Homo sapiens: one gene and its partners. The protein of the gene in region 3 interacts with the protein of the main gene of each other region in a pairwise test. Each region holds a gene or a part of one and is shown on either strand. Other genes may lie near its edges. The genes, in order: HMOX1, SFXN1, SLC16A7 and SMAGP.

Evidence for each region.
Region 1: the proteins of SLC16A7 (region 3) and HMOX1 interact in binary tests that used the Homo sapiens proteins (3 or more experiments, as listed by UniProt).
Region 2: the proteins of SLC16A7 (region 3) and SFXN1 interact in binary tests that used the Homo sapiens proteins (3 or more experiments, as listed by UniProt).
Region 4: the proteins of SLC16A7 (region 3) and SMAGP interact in binary tests that used the Homo sapiens proteins (3 or more experiments, as listed by UniProt).

What each region holds. Positions count from the first base shown.
Region 1 is NC_000022.11:35,391,049-35,394,713, forward strand, and holds the end of HMOX1 (heme oxygenase 1), read left to right. Parts: intron 1-2,419; coding exon 2,420-2,550; 3' UTR 2,551-3,159; downstream 3,160-3,665.
Region 2 is NC_000005.10:175,523,560-175,530,242, forward strand, and holds the end of SFXN1 (sideroflexin-1), read left to right. Parts: intron 1-3,078; coding exon 3,079-3,175; 3' UTR 3,176-6,183; downstream 6,184-6,683. UniProt on the Homo sapiens protein: Amino acid transporter importing serine, an essential substrate of the mitochondrial branch of the one-carbon pathway, into mitochondria.
Region 3 is NC_000012.12:59,599,015-59,606,067, reverse strand, and holds part of SLC16A7 (monocarboxylate transporter 2), read right to left. Parts: intron 1-7,053. UniProt on the Homo sapiens protein: Proton-coupled monocarboxylate symporter. Catalyzes the rapid transport across the plasma membrane of monocarboxylates such as L-lactate, pyruvate and ketone bodies, acetoacetate, beta-hydroxybutyrate and acetate.
Region 4 is NC_000012.12:51,260,393-51,267,445, forward strand, and holds part of SMAGP (small cell adhesion glycoprotein), read right to left. Parts: intron 1-7,053. UniProt on the Homo sapiens protein: May play a role in epithelial cell-cell contacts. May play a role in tumor invasiveness and metastasis formation.

The DNA of each region.
Region 1 (3,665 bases), on a different chromosome or scaffold from region 3:
CTCCTGTGCCACCCTAACCTACCTGGCTTGTGGCTTTCTCACTTGTGCCAGACCACACGGACCCCTCTGCTAGGGGTTTGTAACCCCGGAGGGCTTGGCTATTTGGTGGGGTAGGGAGACGTCACCCTAATGAAGCAGTTCTCAAAGTGTGGTACCCTGGCTGTGGGAGGTGGTAATCCTAGTATCCCCTCAACGGGGTCTGTGAGGACAAAGCATTTTTATAACACTACTACTATTTTTTTGGTTTTTTTTTTTTCGTTTGAGACAGTCTTGCTGTCACCCAGGCTGGAGTGCAGTGGCATGATCTCGGCTCACTGCAAGCTCCGCCTCCCAGGTTCACGCCATTCTCCTGCCTCAGCCTCCCGAGTAGCTGGGACTACAGGTGCCCGCCACCATGCCTGGCTAATTTTTTGTATTTTTAGTAGAGACGGGGTTTCACTGTGTTAGCCAGGATGGTCTCGATCTCCTGACCTTGTGATCCGCCCGCCTCGGCCTCCCAAAGTGCTGTAATTACAGGTGTGAGCCACCGCGCCCGGCCTTTTTTTTTTTTTTTTTTTTTTTTTGAGACAGGGTCTCGCTCTTTCACCCAGTCTGGAGTGTAGTGGCACAATCACAGCTCACTGCAGCTTCAACCTCCCAGGTTCAAGGGATTCTCCCACCTCAGCCTCCTGAGTAACTGGGACTATAGGCACGTGCCACCACACCCAGATTTTTTTTTTTTTTGGCTTTTTTTAAAAAAGCCAAAAATAAATGAGAAAATTAGAGTTTCACTTTCTCATGAATGTGTGTTGGCATTTTCCAAAGGTTATGTGACATGTGATGCTCTCTCATGGATTTGATGGCTCATGGAATGTGTGCCTGTATGTTCTTGTATGTTAAGAATTTCTCAGTTTTGGCCGGGCACGATGGCTCATGCCTGTAATCCCAGCACTTTGGGAGGCTGAGGCACGGGGATCACTTGAGGTAAGGAGTTTGAGACCAACCTGGCCAATGTGGTGAGACCCCATCTCTACTAAAATATAAAAATTAGCTGGGTGTGATGGTGCACACCTGTAATCCCAGCTACTCGGGAGGCTGAGGCAGGAGAATCTCCTAAGTCCGGGAGGCAGAGGTTGCAGTGAGCCGAGATTGCACCACTGTACTCCATCCTGGGCGACAGCGAGACTCCATCTCAAAAAAAAAAAAAAAAGAAAGAAAAGAAAAGAAAAAGAATTTCTCAGTTTTAATATCTAATTTTGTAAATAGTGATAGCTATACTCACACAAACAAAAGCTCTTTTGGATCCTTGGTTGCATTTGAGTATAAAGGAGTTTTGGAACCAAAACATTTGAGAACTGCACCCCTAATGCATCAGAAGGAGCAGGAGCCTTTAATATGAACAACACACATGTAAATGTCACAGTGTACCTGCTTGCTTGCTTGCTTGCTTGTACTTCCTGTGACCGCAGCCCTGGGCCACCAGACCTAAGGCCCTGTTTTCTCTGGGGAAGCCCTTCTCATAGCCCAGGGCGGGGCTAGGATTGAAACCCAGCTGGTCTGGCTCCAGAGACCTGCCCTGGACTCTGTCCTGCTTCTAAAGACCTAGGGAGCACCCACTCTGTGCCTGAGGAGGCAGGTGGCACATCTACCCAGGTTGCATGGTTGGCTCTGGCCTATCATGTTTTAAATCTTTTTTTTTTTTTTTTTTGAAATGGAGTCTCACTCTGTTGCCCAGGCTGGAGTACAGTGGCGCAATCTTGGCTCACTGCAACCTCTGCCTCCTGGGTTCAAGCAATTCTCTGCCTCAGCCTCCCGAGTAGCTGGGATTACTGGCACTCGCAACCATACCCGGCTAATTTTTTGTATTTTTAGTAGAGACGGGGTTTCACCATATTGGCCAGGCTGGTCTTGAACTCCTGACCTCGTGATCCACCTGCCTTGGCCTCCCAAAGTGCTGGGATTACAGGCGTGAGCCACTGCGCCCGGCCCTATCACATTTTAATAACCAGGGATGGGACTGAACTTGAATTTTGACCTCAGAGCTCCTGCTTTCTAGCTCCTGCCCCATCATCACCATGCTTAGCAAACGTGTGAGTTTGAGAGGAAGATTTACAGCTCAGACCTAATTGCTGGCAAAGTTTAAGGAGAGGACAGGGAGCAGGCAGAAGTCTGAAAACCACGCCTGGGCCCAAGAATGTTTTCACAATGTGGCCTGGCTGCACAGGGAAGAACAGACAGCTTGAAGAAGTAGTGAGCTGCCCGTCTTTGAAGGTATTCAAGCAGTGGCTAGAGGGACACCTGTCTGTGGTCTTGCAGAATCCTGGCGTTGGGCAGTGACTGTACCACAGACCCTGAGGCCGCTCTGCTTTGCTTTCCTATGACATCAGACACCCTGATGCACGCCCACCTGTTAATGACCTTGCCCCATTTTCTCTTTCAGATTCTGCCCCCGTGGAGACTCCCAGAGGGAAGCCCCCACTCAACACCCGCTCCCAGGCTCCGCTTCTCCGATGGGTCCTTACACTCAGCTTTCTGGTGGCGACAGTTGCTGTAGGGCTTTATGCCATGTGAATGCAGGCATGCTGGCTCCCAGGGCCATGAACTTTGTCCGGTGGAAGGCCTTCTTTCTAGAGAGGGAATTCTCTTGGCTGGCTTCCTTACCGTGGGCACTGAAGGCTTTCAGGGCCTCCAGCCCTCTCACTGTGTCCCTCTCTCTGGAAAGGAGGAAGGAGCCTATGGCATCTTCCCCAACGAAAAGCACATCCAGGCAATGGCCTAAACTTCAGAGGGGGCGAAGGGATCAGCCCTGCCCTTCAGCATCCTCAGTTCCTGCAGCAGAGCCTGGAAGACACCCTAATGTGGCAGCTGTCTCAAACCTCCAAAAGCCCTGAGTTTCAAGTATCCTTGTTGACACGGCCATGACCACTTTCCCCGTGGGCCATGGCAATTTTTACACAAACCTGAAAAGATGTTGTGTCTTGTGTTTTTGTCTTATTTTTGTTGGAGCCACTCTGTTCCTGGCTCAGCCTCAAATGCAGTATTTTTGTTGTGTTCTGTTGTTTTTATAGCAGGGTTGGGGTGGTTTTTGAGCCATGCGTGGGTGGGGAGGGAGGTGTTTAACGGCACTGTGGCCTTGGTCTAACTTTTGTGTGAAATAATAAACAACATTGTCTGATAGTAGCTTGAAGTAGTTTTCATGGGCTTTGTTATTCTTGGGGAACTGACCTTTTCCTCCCTGGTTTCTTGCGTGCTCGGTAGGAGAAGTGGTGATAGGGGGTTGGCAGGAGCTGGTCTGTTTGAGAATACAGAAGGTGAGCTTTTCTTTTCTTTTTTTTTTTTTTTGAGATGGAGTCTCACTCTGTCACCCAGGCTGGAGTGCAGTGGCGTGATCTTGGTTCACTGCAAGCTCCACCTCCCAGGTTCAATCAATTCTCCTGCCTCAGCCTCCTGAGTAGCTGGGATTACAGAAGTTCATCACCATGCCCAGCTAATTTTTGTATTTTTAGTAGAGATGGGGTTTCCCCATGTTGGCCAGGCTGGTCTCGAACTCCCGACCTCAGCTGGTCCACCTGCCTCAGCTTCCCAAGGTGCTGGGATTACAGGCGTGAGCCACCGTGCCTGGCCCAGGAGGTGAGCTTTAAGTAGCTGGTGGGCGAATATTTGTGTTGAACCCTGCTTGATGCAAT
Region 2 (6,683 bases), on a different chromosome or scaffold from region 3:
ATGTAGCTGTAATTATTTTCAGATTGAAAGGGTTTTAGATTTGAAAACCCATAGAGAAACTTTCTACTTTGGCCTTTTTTCTTTGAGTGCTGCAAGAAATAAAATATAGCCCAACATTTATTTTTTATGATTCATTGAAACTCTAGGGGTAGAAATGGAAAGCTTTCTGTAACTACTAGTGTCCTTAGGTCAAGGCCCTCAGAAAGCGTGTGGTTTTACATTTGAGAAACCAATCCTCTTTTGTTTTACTGTATTTTAAAATAGCTTCTTACTCTGTTTTGTTGTTTATACATTGTATGTTTGGCTTCTTGAGGTCTCTGGCTCCTCAGTTTTTCCTTGGCTCATAACATAGTATCCTCATTGATCCAAGCATGACCCTGTTTTGCTTATTTTTATTTTACTTATACTAATAATATAATGAATATCCACAAATTCAGTGCCCAATGAGGCAGGAGAATCGCTCGAACCCAGTAGGCAGAGGCTGTGGTGAGCCAAGATCACGCTACTGCATTCCAGCCTGGGCAACAGTGCGAGATTCTGTCTCAAAAAAAAAAAAAAAAAAAAAAATATATATATATATATATATATATATATATATATATATATATATATCTCCAATAAGTTACATCTTATAGGCTCCTCCCAACCTGTGTCCCTGCCTCCCCTGCAGATTTAACCACTATGCTGAATTTCATGCTCTTGCATTTTATATTTGTGTATGTATCTTTAGTTTGTCTTAGGAACTTTTTAGACAAGGGTGTCACACTGTCATAAGATGTATAGTCTTCTAGTACTTGTTCTTTTTATTCAGTGTCAGAACTAAGATTCATCTACATTATTGTGTGTACCTATAGTCCATTCATTGTTGTTGTTGTATAATAGTGCATTGTATGAATGCACCACAGTTTCCCGTCTCCTATGTGAACAAGTGATAATGAAAACATTCTTTATTAACATTTTTGAGAAGCAGCAAATGTGTTGCTTTGAGAGATATTTATAGCTTTAAATGTTTATATTATGAAGAATAGCTGAAAATCAATGCACTAAATGTCCCAACTTAAAAAAAAAAAAGCACAAAAGAATAAACATCAGAAAAGAAGGAAGGAAGGAGATGAAGATCAGAAATCAATAAAATAAATAACAGAAAGAGTAGAGGATCAACAAAGTGAAATCTTGGTTCTTTGAAAATAGAAACAAAATAGACAGTTGTCTGGTGAGATTAATCAAAACAAAAAGAGAAAGAGAAAAGTACAAATAATATGAATGAAAAAGAGGTATAACTGTAGGTTCAGCAGTGATTAAAAATAATACCAACATTATACCAACAGATTTGAAAACAAGCAAAATAGACAAATTTCTGGAAAAAATATTAGCAAAGCTGAAAAATTAGAAAGTCAGAATAGGCCAGATAGTCATTAAGGAAGCTGAAGCAGCATTTAATCTTCCTCCTACAAAGAAAACACAAGAAACAGGTAGTTTTACAGGTAAGTTTCTCCCAACTGTCAAGAAACAGATTATTCCAATTTCAAACAAACTCTCCTGGAAGATAAAAAAGAGAATACTCCCCATCATCCACCAAGGTTTGAATAACTTTAATTCCAAGATCAGACTTGGGCCTTTAACATACATTCATAGTAATTACAGATACTTAGAGATCAGTGGCAAAACAGAAAGACCAAGAGGTGGTATAGCAGGGCTTTGGGATCAAGAAAGATCTGCCTTCAACATCTCAGTTGCACCTCAGGTTTCCTTACCTGTACAATTATAATACTGGACTTACAGAGTTTTCCTAAGGGTTAAAATGCATAACGTCTGGCCCAGCAAGTGAGCTGTAAGTCATAGCCATTATCATTACCATCATCAGTGTCGTCATCATCATTTAAAATCACTCAAAGGCCCACTACATAAACAATAGCCATCATGGGATTTTTTTTCCTACCTTTTTTCTATATTCGTAATTTTTAAAATTTGTTTTGCATATTTTAAATATAAGCTTATATCCTGACTTTTTTTAACCTTACAGTCTATCACATGTCAACTATATTAATCAATTTTTTTATTGTTTTTGAGGCAGGGTCTCACTCTCTTGCCCAGGCTGGAGTGCAATGGCACAGTCATAGCTCACTACAGCCTTGAACTTCTGGGCTCGAGCAACCCTCCTGCCTCAGCATCCTGAGTAGCTGGAGCCACAGGCATACACCAACACACCTGTCTTATTTTTTATTTTTATAGATACAAAAATTTGGGTCTCACCAGGTTGCCCAGGCTGGTCTCAAACTCCTGGCCTCAAGAAATCCTCCTGGTTCAGCCTCACAAAGCTCCGAGATTACAGGTGTGAGCCACTGCGCCCAGCCTCAAATATTTTTTTTAAACTAATTACATATCAAAATATTAGCAGTTTTTCTGGTAGGTATTCTGGACAATTTTTCTTTATACTTTAATGAGTGTGCGTTTCTCTTAAAGAATAAGCTTTAATATATATACACCCATAATACCTTCAAATACATTTTTAAGCACTTAAAGACTAACAGTGGTTATCTCTCAGCGGGATTATAAATGTTTTGGTTTTTTTTTTTTTTTTGTACATTTTAGTATTTTTTGAAATTTTTTTAATAAGCGTGTATTACATACAGTAAACAAAAGCACATTAATGTAGGCAGATTATCAATGTTATGCATTTCACTGATTGCATATCTCTTTTTTTATCAATGGTGAACATTGCAAATGATTGATACGTTTTTCTTAGGAAGTGGCATTGCCACAAATGGTTTTTCCAACACCAGCAGGGCCTGAGAGTGTCATCACCATACACTCTTGCCGGCAATAAGAGATTTCACCTTTTAATGATATGAGAGGGAAAAGTTGGGTGTTGGGTTCTCCAGTGCATTTCTTTCATTATGAGTGACATTTTTCTGAAAGGAACGTGATCTCGTTTTCTAGCCGCATGAAGCATTTCTCCAACAAGACCCACTGTACCAGTCCTGGGATCTCCACACCTGTGCCTTCTCCCTGCTCTTTCTAGGTCCTGATTCTCACCTCTGCCTGTGTAATAACCCTGTCATTTCTCCCTTATCCCAGTTCCATGTCTGTGACAAGCTTGGAGGCCGAGTTGCAAGCTAAGATCCAAGAGAGCCATCCTGAATTGCGACGCGTGTACTTCAATAAGGGATTGTAAAGCAGGGAGGAAACCTCTGCAGCTCATTCTGCCACTGCAAAGCTGGTGTAGCCATGCTGGTGAGAAAAATCCTGTTCAACCTGGGTTCTCCCAGTTACGGAAACCTTTTAAAGATCCACATTAGCCTTTTAGAATAAAGCTGCTACTTTAACAGAGCACCTGGCGTGGGCCAAGTGCCTGATACTCCCTTACACTGAATCATGTTATGATTTATAGAAATACCTTTCCTGTAGCTTTTATAGTCATTGTTTTTCAAAGACGATATACCAGCCCTCACCCAGGTTTTAAAAAAGCACTGGTAGGCATAGAATAGGTGCTCAGTATATGGTCAGTAAATGTTCTATTGATTATCAATCAGTGAAAAAAGAAATCTGTTTAAAATACTGAATTTTCATCTCACTCCCATTGCAAATCAAGGAGATCTCAGCAGTGAACTGGGAAAATACAAAAGCTCTGGGCTAATCTATAAAAACTTACCCTGAAATATTAAGGGCAGTTTGCTTCTAGTTTGGGGATTGCGCTAGCCCAATGAAGGTGATGAAGCTTTTGGATTTGGAGGGTAAAAGCTCCTTCACACCCCTTCCAAAAGTCAGTCACAGACCACTGCAACATGCCTTCCCTGCTGGATCATTATATACATTCAGATTGTGAGTGGATTGCCTTGGTTGACTTTTAATTTATTGTTTTTTGTTCTTATAAAGATGATAATCTTACCTTGCAGTTATTGACTTTATATTCAATTATTTACATCAAATAATGAAATAACTGAAATGTACAAATGTCAAATTTTGGAAGTATATTCAATACCAATGCTGTATGAGTGGGCTGAATCCAGTTCATTGTTTTTTTTTTGGTAAGAAGTGAGACTACAGTTCCAGCTACCTACATGTCTTTTCTTGTCATCCTTATAGATCTCTTTGGCTTTCAGAAAGATACAGTGATAATGTGTGTATGAATCAGTCACAATGAATTTTACTTGAATATTGTATGTTGCATTCCACTTCATTTGAAAATAATGAAACCATGTACCACTGTTTACATCATCTGTAGTGATTTCATAGATAATATATTTAATATGACAGATTATGTTTCAACTCTGTAGATGTTTAACGTCATAGACAGTTGGCCCTCTGTATCCGTGAGCTCTATATCTGTGAATTCAACCAAGTTTGGATGGAAAATTTTTTTTTTTTTTTTTTTTTTGAGACGGAGTCTCGCTCTGTCACCCAGGCTGGAGTGCAGTGGCGTAGTCTCGGCTCACTGCAAGCTCCGCCTCCCGGGTTCACGCCGTTCTCCTGCCTCAGCCTCTCTGAGAAGCTGGGACTACAGGCGCCCGCCACCACGCCCGGCTAATTTTTTTGTATTTTTAGTAGAGACGGGGTTTCACTGTGGTCTCGATCTCCTGACCTCGTGATCCGCCCGCCTTGGCCTCCCAAGGTGCTGGGATTACAAGCGTGAGCCACCGCACCCGGCCTGAAAATATTTTCTAAAAAGATAAAAAATATACATAACGATGAAAAATAATACAAATTTAAAAACCAATACAGTATAACAACTATTTACATAGTGCTTACATTGTATTAGGTGTTATAAGCAATCTAGAGATGATTTAGCAAGTATACAGGAGGATGTGCCTAGGTTATATGCAAATACTGTGCCATTTTATATCAGGAACTTGAGCATCTGCAGATATTGGTATCGGAGGGCGGTCCTGGAACCAAGCATCCACGGATACTGAGGGGTGACATTTCATGAAGTGTAGATCATTGTATTCAGAGATTGTAAATGAAAAAAATATAGAAACTATTTAGTTTTGGTAGATTTTTTTTCTGACAATGTGACCAGACTGAATTTCCTCATAAAGAAAAAATGGCGTGCCTTGTGTCTGTGTTTCTCTTTTCTCTGAAAGGATTAATAGATCTGAAGCTTTGGGCCACTCAGAGCCTTCCTTGATGCTGCCAGAGTCTTCTTATTTAGATTTTCTGTCTTAAACCATTGGAAGCAAAACGGTTTTCCCATGACATTCTGGCCTTGGACAGATTCTGTTGTCCTCGACGCGTCTCTTTATAAAGTGGTAAAAGCCTGAAATTCAGGGCAGCTCTCCATGAGGTGCTGAAGGGCTCTTTTCATAAGAAGCTAAGGCACTGCTGCCTGCCCCAGGTGTCCCGCTCCTCTCAGAGTCCTCCCCCTACCAGGTAGTGTGTAGCTCCATTTCAGAATGTTAACCTCCAGTGAAGAGCTAATGACTGGTTAGAAGATTGACAAACTAACCAAAATTTTACACACTCCGGTTATGTGTGTGAAAGGTTATAAAAGGAATGGCCGGGTGCGGTGGCTCACCCCTGTAATCCCAGCACTTTGGGAGGCCGAGGCGGGTGGATCACCTGAGGTCAGGAGTTTGAGACCAGCCTGGCCAACATGGAGAAACCCCGCCTCTACTAAAAATACAAAAAATTAGCCAGGCATGGAGGCACATGCCTATAATCCCAGCTACTCGGGAGGCTGAGGTAGGAGAATCGCTTGAATCCGGGAGCTGGAGGTTGCAGTGAGCCAAGATCGCACCATTGCACTCCAGCCTGGGCAACAAGAGCGAAACTCCATCTCAAAAAAAAAAAAAAGAGATTATAAAAGGGATGATGAACATGGAGCTGCATCTTTTTAAACGTTGTTTTTTGATGCTTCAGACTCTTAATGCTTTTATATAAAGCTATCAACTGTATGTTGATCACAGTTTATAAGAAAGAACAAATCAAGATTGGCAATCCTTGCCGATCTTTTAGAAATACCTTTTCTGGAGAAAAAAAAATCCACATGAAGTGCAATAAGCTTATAAAGCTAAGTAGTTATTAATATTTCTATTAACATGATACAAAGGATGATGATTGTAAGTGTTTACTGACTGGCAGCTTTTATTTCAGTATTAGCACAGCGTCTTGCCAGTGTTGGAGGCCATGTATTATTTCAGTTCAACTGGATGAAATGTTAAATAAACTCAGAATGAAAATAAATTCTCTCTTTTATTTGTACATAAAGGATAAAGCAGTTTGTGTGTTACAACTGATGGTACTTTTCATTCAAAGTTAATATCTACAGTACCATCAGCAACTCCTAATGAAAAGATATTTTTGTATTATGCCTTTAACAAGAAATATATTTCTATTTTGGGCTACCAGTCTCCCACCTTTTTGAACCTCATATACATAAAGGCACACCCACCCACCCCCCAAACTCCTATGACAATGTGATTCCAGGAATATTAATGATGGGCGTGGGGGATGGATTTCAGCTTGAAACTTGGATGGCCAACACCTCTGCACATGACGGTGATGGAAACATGCTTCTATATTATTGATCTGATTCTAACCTGGCACTGGCATTTACTAACAGAGAAAGTCTAAATTAACCTAAGTTTGGGGAGTGCCTTAATAAAAGACTTGATACAGAGCTGAGCATTTTAACTTCCTTGGCCATGTTTCTGCATTTGTTTTGCTACAGTAACTCTGTTGTC
Region 3 (7,053 bases):
AAGAAGTTCTGCCTCAATATATGCCAAAAATAAAGGTAGAGATAAAAATGACATGATGATGATTATCATTTATTGACTACCTACATTATTTCTCCAACAACAACTCATAAAATAAATTTTATTATTTCCAAAATGAGAAAACTGGGGCTCTAAAAGTTACATACCTTGACTGTGGTCAAACAGCTTAGAAGTAGCTTAGTCGAAATTTCATTGGGCTATATCTATCTGTCTTCAAAGTCTCTGATCTGACATGTGACACAGATTGAGAAAAAAGGAAAAGAGAATAAAGAGATAACTACAGAATAAGACTGGCTACATAGAGAAGATGGCATGAGAGGTCTACAAAAAAAATTGGCTCAAGGACATAAATTGCTTAACCTTGCTTTGAGAATATATTTGATATCTGTGTAACTCAAGACTAAAAAGGACTTACCTGTTCTATTTACAGCCATCTCTCTAACATCCAAAACAGTGTCTGGAACACAGCAGGGGAATAAATAGTTGTTAAAGTACTGCATTCTATGCCTTAAAATATGTCAGAGGCTTTATTCAAAATCCCTCTTCACTGTAAATTTGATATATACCCATCTATGAGAATTCTCCAGACCCTACTCTGTTCATGCACTCACTGATACCCACAGCACAGGGCTTCCATGGGAGTCTTGCCACCTCCCACGTATTCTATCCCTACCACCTTGCAAACTGAGTTATAGGAATGACATCCTGGACTTACTGTTCCTTCGGTCCCTACTGGTTCTCCAGCCTCCTTGAATCCACAAGGGGTTGTTACTTTCTCTAAGCTTTCTAGCTTGGTTCCAGGTAACTCCTTCAAATAGTAAGGAAGCCTTATCATTCCTGTTGACTTTATGTTGTAACAGACCCAAACTCATTATACCTGACTACTAGTCTCTGTTTGAAAAAATATTTATCAGACTTTGCCTGTAATCCCAGCACTTTGGGAGGCTGAGGTGGGAGGATCAAAAGGTCAGGAGATCAATACCATCCTGGCTAACATGGTGAAACCCCATCTCTACTAAGAATACAAAAACAAAAATTAGCCGGGCGTGGTGGCGGGCGCCTGTAGTCCCAGCTACTTGGGAGGCTGAGGCGAGAGAATGGCATGAACCTAGGACGCAGAGCTGGCAGTGAGCCAAGATTGTGCCACTGCACTCCAGCCTGGGTGACAGAGTGAGACTCCGTCTCAAAAAAGAAAAAAAATAAAATTATCGGACTTTTCCCAAGAATGTCTTAAAATTTACTGCAGCATGAAATACTTGAAATTAATACTATTGAAAAGGTACATTTTGTTCAACAGATTAAAATCCAGACCCTTCCAATGACAAGATGTGTAACCTTGGGCAAAATACTTCACCTCTGTGCTCTACTCTGCCCATCTGTAAAATGAGGATAACAAAAATGCTTCCTCATAAGGTTTTGAGGATTAAATTAGTTAAAACATGTAAGGTATTAAATATAGAAGTGTTCAACAAATGTAAGCTATTCTTACTTAAAGCTTATCTTTATAACTTTACTTAATAGCCACTTATTTGGTCCAATGTCCTTAAATTCACTTATTATACACACACACACACAAGACATGTTTGTTGTTTTACTACTTAGGGCATTAATCTATAAAAGAGTATAATTTTACTGAGTGGCTAATTTCCAATTACAATCAAAAGTTAAAGTGAGCTTTCCTATCATCCTCCAGTGGTTTATTCATTTATTTATTTATTAAACTGTTGGCACAGAAAGGAAAGTTCAGCCCTGAGATAACTATGGGATTCTCCCAGAGGTAGATCGCTATATATACCTTGATTTCCCACCCTGACACCTGAAGAGATATTGACAAGTTACATCATGAAAAACAATTCCAATATTTACATTCAAAACCATTGTTATCCTTGAAGTATTCTATGCATTTGTGGACTTTCCTAAAGTTGAATTACTCCACAATACAGCAGCCTTAAATAAAGAATGTAACCAGGTCACATGCAAAAAACAGGAAGAAAAACTGAATATGTTAAATTGATAGAGAAAACAAAAGACATGTGAGCTGTCACCACATTGGTAGAGTATGTCATTCAAATGAGAAAGGGATTCATTTCATGTGGCCCCAGGAAGCTGAACAAAGACCCTAGGTAGAAACAAGAAAATTTGAGTCACAAGTAGAACTGCCTTTAAAAGAACAGTCTGCCTCAGTGTGTACACTTAAATAATAGATGGTGGTTTATTGAACATAATGAAAACAACACATAAAAGTGGAAACAGATGTCCTCCAAGTTTCTTGCAACTCTATAATCCACCAAAATGCTAAAGATGACATAAATATGAATACATTATTATTCCTGACATCTACAACTTTATAGTATATTAAGAAACTGAATAATTATATAAAATCAAATATAATAGAATGTCAAGACATTCTATTATACAATGTCAAATAAGACATTATAAACATAATGTTCCTGAAATTTTAGAAAAATTATTCTACCTATCCAGAGGTGTCAGAGGAAAATTTGTATGTGGTGTTTAAGCTCAACTTCTTAGAAGGTGAGGTTAGAGCTAGAAATCGTAGGACGTTAGATTCATTTCAAGATAAAAGAACAGCATGGCCAAAGATTTGGCGGTAGGAAGTAGAATGAGAATGAACGAGGCATGAGGACAGTTCCATTTGAGTTGAGTATGATGGTAGTGGGAGATGAACATGGAACAGCTGTTTGGACTTACATCATGCAGGGACTGAAATGTCAGTCCTTGGACCTAGGTGATGGGAGTGTTACTTAACAAAGGTGTGCTTCCATGAGAGTATCTGATACCATGTACAGAATTAACTGGTAGGGTGAGAGACCAGAGGTGGGAATACCCACTAAGAGACTATTACATGACTGTAGGTAGTATGTCAAAAGCACCTGAAACTTCTGGCAACAACAGAATAGAAATAAATAATTAAAAAATTATTTTGGATGTACACAAGTCCAGAGAAAGGGTGGTCTCAAAAGCTTCTAGGCTAGAATACTGCTGATATCAATATGAAGAATGGGGGTGACAGAAAGAAAGAAGACAAAAAGGAAGGAAGAGACCACAGGATACTGGAAGTATCAAAAGCACAGTAAAGAGAAGCTGTCCTGCAAACATCTAGAAATGTCTGGAAATGCCTAAAAGTTGAGGGAAGGTCAGGACTACAGCAAATGGCTTGGGAGTTATTCCTACTGAGGTGAAAGCGGAGGTCCAGAGCAGATGAGCTTTGTCAATCAACAGAATGCAGGCTAAAGAAAAGTCTGGCCAGGCTCAGTGGCTCATGTCTGTAATTCCAGCACTTTTGGGGGCCAAGGTGGGCAGATCACTTGAGGTCAGGAGTTCGAGACCAGCCTGGCCAATATGGTGAAACCCTATTTCTACTAAAAATACAAAAAATTAGCCAGACGTGATGGTGGGCGCCTATAGTCCCAGCTACTCAGGAGGCTGGGGCAGGAGAATCACTTGAACTCAGGAGGTGGTGGTTGCAGTGAGCCAAGTTCATGTCATTGCACCCAAGCCTGGGTGTTGCAGTGAAACCCTGTCTCAAAAAAAAAAAAAAAAAAAAAAGCCCAAAACACAAACTGGGGAAGACATACTTATATTGAATACGAGGTGAAAGGCGAGCTGGAGAAGAAGCAGTAAATGAGCGGTGAGAGAAGTAACAAAATAAAGAGCACATGAAAGCCAAAACAGGAGTTCAAGAAGCATTAGGGATGAATACTGCCAAAGGTTATTAACAGTCCAAAGCAAATAATTTGGAGGCTAGGAGGTCAATGATGCTCTGATTATTAAAGTTAACAGTTGTTATGCCTTACTAATAAAGAACTCATTGTTTCAAAACAAAATATTTTTATACAAGAGTATTATTTTCATCCTTTAATGAAAGGCAAAATAATTTTGAAAGTACTCTGAAAGTACTCTGATCCCAAATAAATTGTTTAAACAATCTCAATTTGATCTTATTGGCTGACAGTTTTCAACCATATGGATCACCATTCCACCACAGGTATATTAAAATGTAGAGAGGCATTTTTGATTGTTACAATGACTAAGGGAAAGCCACTGACTTATAGAAAACAGAGATAGATCATTGTTACGGACTTAATGTGTGCCTCCAAAATTCATGTTGAAGTCCTAATCCCCAAAGGAGTGGTATTAAGACATGGGGACTTTGGGAGTTAAGTAGGTCATAAGGAAGGAACTCTCATGAATGGGATTAGCACCCTTATAAAAGAGAGCTCTCACTCTCATCCCACCATGTGAAGATATAAGAAACCAGCAGTCTACAACCCAGAAGAGGCCTTCACCAACACCTGGACCATGCCAGCACCCTGATCTCAGATTTCCAGCCTCTAGAACTGTGAGAAATAAATTTCTGTTGTTCATAAGCTACCTAATCTGTCTATAGTTTGTTATCGCAGCCCAAATTTACTCAGAAAGGTCACAGACACCCAATGCTCTGCAATGAAAGAGACAGTCCTACACAATGAAAAAGTGTCCCACCCCAAATGCCAATAATCCCACCTGTTGAAAAATACTGTCACCGACTGCCATTTATCACTGAATTTGCCTTTCACATATTTGAGAAGAACTGATGGAACTTCAAATCCTAGAAATTTTGAAAATCATTTTTAAAATAAGATAAATGTTAATATCCCTTAGAAACTTATCAAATGCATGCTTTGTAGTTTTATTTTTTATTCTTATCTAATCTAGTTAAAAAAGATATAGATATTCAAGTTAATTACTTAGTAGGGCAGCTGCTTTGTAAAAAGTACCATTCTTTTACATATTAGCTTCAATAGAAATCTGATTAGAGGTATTGACTAATTAATAATGATACATATTGTATTATGAGGTGGAGAAACAGCAAATGCTTATAATAAAATGCTTTCTACAAAATACCAACACTGTATATGGATCTTTATTTATCTAAACAAATATTTCATTTGTGTTCACCACTTACACAAAATATTTTCTATTGAAAGTTGCTATTTTAATGCCAACTATTACATAAAACTAATCACCAGGCTCTATAATTGAACCATACAGACATTTTTGTGGAACTTAACGAAAGTACCTTTAGGCCAGTATCTTGTAGCTGTCGTTCAGTTGTCCCATAGGATTTTCATGAGGTCCTTTGAGACTTCAATGAGTATTAATGAAAACATTTGCGGGAGTTTTAGTATTAGGTCAGAAAAATTATTTCCAAAAATACTTGCTTCATTTATCAACACTGATATTTGTGAATATGTTGAAATTGTCTATGGTGCACCCAAGTCCCAGTTAGTCCAGCTCCAGCTGGACTAGTTTTATTATAGTCAGCTCCAATTTGTTTAATTTTCTCCCACATTTTTAATGATTACAGTTGATATATAAAGACCCTCCACTTATTTACTAATTACCAAATACGTGTGATAAGTGTTATTTATTCCTCTCGACAATGGTCCATTTTAGGCTAGTCTCTCATATTATGATTTTAAACAGCTGGATCTCTCACATAGGTAGACTCAGCCCCTGGATTCACCATTTATAGCAGCAACTGAGAAAATGAAGCTTTCTCACAAGTTAAAAAAAAAAAAAAGTTCCATTATTCACTGAGAGCTAGTGTGCAGATGTTTCCCAAGATATTTCTTAATCACTTTGATCCAAACAGTTTTGAGAAAGCCTGTGACAAACCAGGATGACTTCTCAAAGGGAGTCCACTTAATGGTTTATTATGCAATTCAACTTTGTTGTGCCATCTAATGGCAAGTTTGGCATTTCAGAGTTCCCAAAAATCTGTTAAAAATAAGCCAGTGATGCTTATGATAAACTAAAAAACATAAAGCCAAATATTTAATACCTAAAAGTAGTTATTGAGTTATTTCTATGTATGTGCTCAGCACAGTGCTATTTCACAGATATTATCTCATTTAATGTTTACAACCAATATACAAAATTGGTTACTATTCTATTTTTACACATGAAGAAACCGAGACTTAAAGAGGTCTAGCAACTTGTCTTTGTTGATAAGTGGCAAAGCTAAAATCAAAACCCAGACAGGCTGGACTTCAGAGCCCCTCGTCTGCCCTGTCCTGTCCCAAGCAGCAGCTCCACAGAGGTTCCAAGATGAATCAGATATACCATCTACTCTCAAAGACCATGTAGCCCAGGAAGAGAGATAGGATGCCTTCCCAAATAATTGTAATTCAAGGTAAAATATAAGAATCAGCCTAAGAGAAGCCCAGATCAAGTTACGAAGTAGTTCAGATGAACACAGATTACTTCAAGATGTGGAAAACAGGAGGGTACTTTTTATTTGGGATGAGTTGAAGGGAGGAGGGGAACAAAGGGCAATAACAGAATGTAATTATTCTTTGCCGCATGCCATTCTATTTATCAGGCACAGTATAAAACAGCTTATATTTGTTATCGTCTTTGGTGTTCAGAACAACAATACAAGTACTACCACAACATTGCATAAGACAAAGCCAGCCAGTGGCTTAACTAAAATTTAAATCCAGTGCCCCTGCATTATGGTCTGCCCTTTTAATTTCTTCCTTCTTTTTTTTTCCTGGTCCACCTTGAGTAGGTCACTCTTTGATGTTTGCACTTCATGGGCACCTTTTGCTAATTTGTCAAACCAAAGAGAATATTTTCCTATTCTGCATAAATGAGCATCATAAACTAGATGATTAGATGCAAGACAAGGAAAAGGAATCCTCAAAAGAGCCTCAACTATTGTGTTCTCAGGGCAGAGTTCATGCTGGATTTCCTGCCAGATTCAGTGTTGAAGGCGGGAGACACTTGGACTTGCTAATTTTTATTTCCTCCTCTTCCTCCTTCCCTCTAGTTCTGCTTCCCTCCCTCTTTCCTTCTTTCTATAATCAGTTGTTCTGAACCATGACATGCCAGACACTGTACTGGGCTATGGAGAAAACAACAGGTAAGGTCTTTGCTCTTATTTAGCTTCATGCAAGGCAGAAGCTATATGACACAGTGGTTAAAGCCAAACAGATCGCATCGGTGCTTGCCCCAGCTCAACCACTT
Region 4 (7,053 bases), 8.3 Mb from region 3:
TTGAGACGGAGTCTCGCTCTGTCACCCAGGCTGGAGTGCAGTGGCAGAATCTCGGCTCACTGCAAGCTCCGCCTCCCAGGTTCACGCCATTCTCCTGCCTCAGCCTCCTGAGTAGTTGGGACTACAGGTGCCCGCCACCACGCCCGGCTAATTTTTTGTATTTTTTTAGTAGAGACAGGGTTTCACCGTGTTAGCCAGGATGGTCTCAATCTCCTGACCTCGTGATCCACCCGTCTTGGCCTCCCAAAATGCTGGGATTACAGGCGTGAGCCACCGCGCCCGGCCAATTTTTTTTTTTTTTTTTTTTTTTTGAGACGGAGTCTCATTCTCTGGCCCAGGCTGGAGTGCAGCGGCGTGATCTCGGCTCACTGCAACCTCTGCCTCCTGGGTTCAAGCGATTCTCCTGCCTCAGCCTCCCGAGTAGCTGGGACTACAGGCGCCCACCACCACGCCCAGCTGATTTTTTTGTATTTTTAGTAGAGACGGGGTTTCACCATGTTAGCCAGGATGGTCTCGATCTCCTGACTTCGTGATCCACCCGCCTCAGCCTCCCAAAGTGCTGGGATTACAGTATTTTTAGTAGAGAGGGGGTTTCACCATGTTGGTCAGGCTGGTCTCGAACTCCTGATCTCGTGATACACCTACCTTGGCCTCCCAAAGTGCTAGAATTACAGGTGTGAGCCACCGTGCCCAGCCTTAATTTTTTTTTTTTTTTTTTTCTGAGACGGAGTCTCACTCTGTCACCTGGGCTGGAGTGCAGTGGCTCAATCTTGGCTCACTGCAACCTCCGCCTCCCAGGTTCAAGCGATTCTCCTGCCTCAGCCTCCCAAGTAGCTGGGATTACAGGCACCCGCCACTATGCCCAGCTAATTTTTTGTATTTTTAGTAAACACAGGGTTTCACCATGTTGGCCAGGCTGGTCTCGAACTCTTGACCTTGTGATTTGCCCACCTCGGCCTCCCAAAGTGCTGGGATTACAGGCATGAGCCACCACACCCGGCCTGGGTGTCACAATTTTGAAGTGAGCAGGCAAACCATGTCAGATAAGGAAAGCTTGCAAGAGAAAGCCCAGAGAAAAAAAAGGGAGCCTAGAGCTTGAATTCTGTCTTCTAATATGCCAAGGCATGACCTGTACAAGAGAACTAACAGCAGAAACTGGGAAAGACAGATGTCTCCCCAACAGAAGGAAGAGCAAAACTGGACAAAAGCTACGTAGCATCTTGGAGAGAGAATTCTAGGACAGAATGGTTAGTTGAACTAGCTGAGCATCAGAACCCCTCTCAGCCTTAATTTTTGAATTTTTATAAATGGAAAGTGTTCTATTAGAATTCTCATTAAAATCAAATTTTAAAATAAAAAATCCAGACATACTTAGAATGTCTATCTGGAGAGGAATGATGAAATAAATTACAGGCCATCCATTGTGGAAACAGTTGCTAAAACGAATATGAGATCTACAATATTACTGGGACAGGATACATGGTTAGATGAAAAAAGCAAACTGCCAGGTGGTATATGTAGTAGGACTGCATCTTTGTTTAAAAAAAAAAAAAAAAGTAAATTGGCAGAGTGCAGTGGCTTACACCCATAATCCCAGCACTTTTGGAGGCTGAGGTGGGAGGATTGCTTGAGGCCAGAAGTTTGAGTCCAGCCTGGGCAACATAGCGAGACCCCTGTCTCTCTGTGTATTTTTTTTTAAGTAACTTTAAAAAACCCTATAAATATGCATATATATGTTTGTACATAGAAAAGGTCTAGAAAGCTGTTCTCTGAGGGGCATGTATTACCTTTCAAATAAAAGAACATGCTTGGCAAGGTGGCTTACACCTATAATCCCAGCAATTTGGGAGGCTGAGGCCAGAGGATCACTTGAGTCCAGGAGTTCAAGACCAACCTGGGCAACATGGCAAAACCCTGTCTCTACAAAAAATACAAAAATTAACTGGGCATGGTGGCACGCACCTGTGATCCCAGCTACTTGGGAGGCTGAGGTGGGAGGATCACCTGAGTCTGGGAAGGTTGAGGCTGCAGTGAGCTGTGATTGAGCCACTGCTCTACAGCCTGGGTGAAACTGAGGCCCTGTCTCAAAAAAAGAAAAAAAGGACAAACAACAACAAAATAAACTAAGTTCAGGAAAGCTGGCATAAAAGGAGGAAATGGCTTATAGCTTTTCCCCCATTCTCTCCCGTTTCTACCCCATTTTTTTGTCCAAACAAAGGAATAATTATTAAATAGCACTACAGTCTTTCCAAACCTTCCCTGCTCAGGTTCATAAGATTGAAGGCCCCACCCAAGTCCTAACCAATAGCAAATGACCTTCAAGATCTATTCTGTTCACTTACTCTTTTTTTTGTTAACCCAGATACTGGCTGGCTTCTTTGTGGTCCTTGTTCCCAGCTTGAGCTAAATCTCTTATCACTGAGGCATCAGATCTTTTGCCACCTAAGTCTGCCAGCCTACTTATTTGCTCTAGACCTGCCCAGCAGAGGGCGGCTCCCCGAGTTCTTTCCATGGGAAGCCACCCTGGGACTCGGCCCCCTTTCTTCTGCCTTCTCTTTCATGTGCACCAGCCAGTTGGGTGGAGTGAGACCTTGGGAGCAGTACACCATGACAGAAAGAACACAGGCTTGCAGTAAATCAGACTTGGCGCAAAATCCTGCCTCTGCCATTACTAGCTGTGTGACCTTGGGAAATTTTTTTAATCTTTGAAAATTTAACGGTGACTCATGCCTGTAATCCCGGCACTTTGGGAGGTCGGGGTGAGTGAATCACTTGAGATCAGAAGTTCGAGACCAGTCTGGCCAACATGGTGAAACCCTGTCTCTACTAAAAATACAAAAATTAGCTGGGCATAGTGGTGGGCGCCTATAGTCCCAGCTACTCGGGAGGCTGAGGCAGGAAAATTGCTTGAACCCGGGAGGCAGAGGTTGCAGTTAGCCGAGATTGCACCACTACACTCCAGCCTGGGTGACAAGTGGGAAATTCCATCTCAAAAAAAAAAAAAGAAAAGAAAATTCCTTAACTCCCCTGAACTTCAGTTTTTCCTTCCGTAAAATGAGACTAAAACTTGTTTCATTGGGTTGTGGTGAGGAATAAGTGCAATGAAAAATGCTGCTTTGGGAGGCTGAGATGGGAGGATCACCTGAGGCCAGGAGTTTGAGACCAGACTGGGCAACACAGTAAGACCTTATTTCTACAAAAAATTATTTTTAAAATAAAATAAAGAAAAATGCTAAGTGTCTAATACAGGGTGAGGACAACCTAGGCGGTAGCTGGTGTGATCATTTGGTGGCAAGAGATGAGCTTTACCTGGCACGGTGGGCAAAGCCCACAAGGCACAGTTCCACTCTGCCCTACTTCGAATAGGGCTGACTTATGCACTAGGCACAACAGGCACAGTGCCCTGGGCCCACAATGCTTCGAAAGGCCCATGAAAATGTTTTAAATAATTTTCATTTCTTTTATAATTAGAAGAAGGAAAAGAAACAAAATTTTAGGTCAAAGAAATATTAAGGTTGTTATGCCATTCAATTACTAATTATAAATATTAATTATATTATATTATATTCTTCCTTACACTGATGCAGTTGTAAAATATGATTTTTAATATTTTTTTAAGTGAAGGAGGAGCCCACAAAGACAGAAGTGCCCAGGGCTCAGGAGTCATAATGTGGCCCTTCCTTTCAAGGTTCCTGGAGGATATCTTCTCTAGGAAGTCTTTATAGACTGTGAGGGAGGAATAGGTGGGAAGGTGGGGGAAGAGAAATGCAAGACAGGGGTAGAAGAGAAGAGCTGGCCTTTAGTGATCCCATCATTTAAAGTATAAGCTTTCTTCCTATCTGTGATTTCTATTCTTTTGTCTATTGCTGTCTCTGAACTTACACTTGCTTGGACCCAGTGGATAGGAGACTGTCCTAAATCACTACTTCACTCATGTCACTCGCTGGATCAAGAATGCAGCCAGGTGAGGTGGCTTGCGCCTATAATCTCAACAACTCAGGGGCAGAGGAAGGAGCATGGCTTCAGGCCGGGAGAGTTGCCTGAGCAACATAGCAAAACCCTATCTCTACAAAAAATTTTAAAATTAGCTGGGCGTGATGGTGCACGCCTGCAGTCCCAGCTGCTCAGGAGTCTGAGGTGGGAGGATCCCTCAAGCCCAGATGTTTGGGTCTGTAGTGAGCCAGGATTGTGCCACTGCACTCCAGCCTGGGCAACAGAGTAAGATCCCATCTCTTAAAAAAAAAAAAAAAAAAAAAAGGTCAGGCACAGTGGCTCATGCCTGTAATCCTAGTACTTTGGGAGGCCAAGGCAGGCGGATTGCCTGAGCTCAGGAGTTTGAGACCAGCCTGGGCAACATGGTGAAACCCCGTCTCTACTAAAATACAAAAAATTAGCCGGGTGTGGCAGCGTGTGCCTGTAATCCCAGCTACTCAGGAGGTTGAGGCAGGAGAATTGCTTGAACCCGGGAGGTGGAGGTTGCAGTGAGCCGAGATGGTGCCACTGCAATCCAGCCTGGGTGACAGAGCAAGACTCCATCGCCAGAAAAAAAAAAAAAAAAAGAGAAAGAGAGAGAGGACTGATTCAACGATCAATTTTTTAAAAAAAATTTTTAAAGGATATAAATATACAACTGAACAAGAACAAAACAAATCAACTAAAAAATGGGACAAGACTTGAATAGACATTTCTCCAAAGATATACAAATGGTCAATAAGTACATGAAAAGATGCTCCACATCACTATCACTAGGGAAATGCAAATCAAAACCACAATGAGATACCACTTCACACACAATATGATGACTACCATTAAACAGAAAGTAACAAGTGTTGGCAAGGTTGTAGAGAAACTGAAACCTTTATGCATTGCTGGTAGGAATATAAAATGGTGCAGCTGCTGTGCAAACCTATATGGTGGATCCTCAAAAAAATCAAACACAGAATTACCACATGATATAGCAATTCCACTTCTGAGCATACATCCCAAACAACTGAAAGCAGGGTCTCAAGAAGATATTTGTACACCCATGTTTATGGCAGCATCAGTCACAATAGCCAAAAGGTGGAAGCAACTCAACTGTCCATCATAGATGAATGGATAAACAAAATGTAATATACACATACAACAATATTATTCAGCCTTGAAAAAGTAGGAAATTGTGACATGCTACAATATGGATGAACTTTGAGAATATTATGCTAAGTGAAGTTAGCCAGACACAAAAGGTCTATTGTATGATTCTACTTACATGAAGTACCTAGAGCAGTCAAATTTACATAGACAGAAAATAGAACGGTGTTTGCAGGGAAATGGGGAATCAGTGTTTAATGGGTGTCAAGTTTCGGTTTGGGAAGGTAAAGTTCTGGAGATGGATGGTGGTGAGGAACATGAATTACTTAATACAGTAGTCCCCCCAGGCCAGGCACTGGCCTGTAATCCCAGCACTTTGGGAGGCCGAGGTGGGCGGATCACGAGGTCAGGAGATCAAGACCATCCTGGCTAACACGGTGAAACCCCGTCTCTACTAAAAATACAAAAAATTAGCCGGGCGTGGTGGTGGGCGCCTGTAGTCCCAGCTACTCGGGAAGCTAAGACAGGAGAATGGCGTGAACCCATGAGGCGGAGCTTGCAGTGAGCTGAGATGGCGCTACTGCACTCCAGCCTGGGTGACAGAGCGAGACTCCGTCTCAAAAAAAAAAAACAACAGTAGTCCCCTCTTATCTGCGGTTTTGCTTTCCTAGGTTTCAGTTACCCGTGGTCAACTGCAGTCCGAAAACATTAAATAGAAATTTAACAGAAAAAGAAAATTCCAGAAAGGAACAATTCATACATTTTAAATTATGTACCGTTCTGAGTAGCGTGATGAAATCTCACACCCTGCTCCATCCTGCCTGGAAAGTGAATCATCCTTTTGTGTCCATGCTATAAACGCTTAGTAGAGTACCACAGCGCTTGTGTTCAAGTAACCCTTATTTTACATGACAGTGGCCCCAAAGCACAAGAATAGTGATGCAATTTGGACATGCCAACAAGAAGTGCTTCCTTTAAGTGAAAAGGTGAAAGTTCTTGACTTAAGAAAAAAAAAAAAAGAACTGTGTACTGAGGTTTCTAAGATCTATAGTAAATAAGACATTTTAAGTGAGAGAGACCATTTTCACATAACTCTTATTACAGTATATTGTTATAGTTGTTCTATTTTATTATTATTGTTAATCTCTTACTGTGCCTAATTTACAAGTTAAGCTTTATCATAAGTATGTATGTACAGGAAAAAACACAGTATAGATGGGGTTCAGTACTATCTGAGATTTCAGGCATCCACTGGGGTTTTTGGAATGAATCCCCTGTGGATAAGCGGGGACTACTCTACCACTGAATTGTCTGCGAAAAAATGGCTAAAATGGTAATACCTGTACTATGTTTATTTTACCATAAATTTTAAAAAAGAAAAAATGGCATGAGCCTGTAATCCCAGCACTTTGGGAGGCCGAGAAGGGCAGATCACTTGAGGCCAGGAGTTTGAGACCAGCCTGGCCAACATGGCGAAACCCTGTCTCCACTAAAAGTATACAAATTAGCCAGGCGTGGTAGCGCACGCCTGTAATTCCAGCTACTAGGGAGACTAAGGTGGGAGAATTGCTTGAACCCAGGGGGCGGAGGTTGCAGTGAACCGAAATTAAGCCACTGTACTCCAGCCTGGGTGACACAGCAAGACTTGGTCTCAAAAATAATAATAATAAAATTTAAAAAATGTAAACAGCTCCCCCTTGCCAAGGTTCTAATCCCTCAGCTAGCTGCCAAGGTATCACCTTTTTTCCCTTGTGGGCAGGATTATTCTGGAGGTCCTCTGCCCACCCGCTTCCTGAACATCCTCCAGGGTAAATCGTCTCTGTAGCTTCACACATGGTATGAGGTATTCTACCTTTATCTAGAGCAGGTACACACGAAAAAGGTATTCTACGTTTCTCTAAGATACCTGCTGCGCCCCTTTGCCTGTATGAACCTTGTCCGTCTTTCAAGGGCAAGACTCAGATCCCCTTCCTCACCCACCCA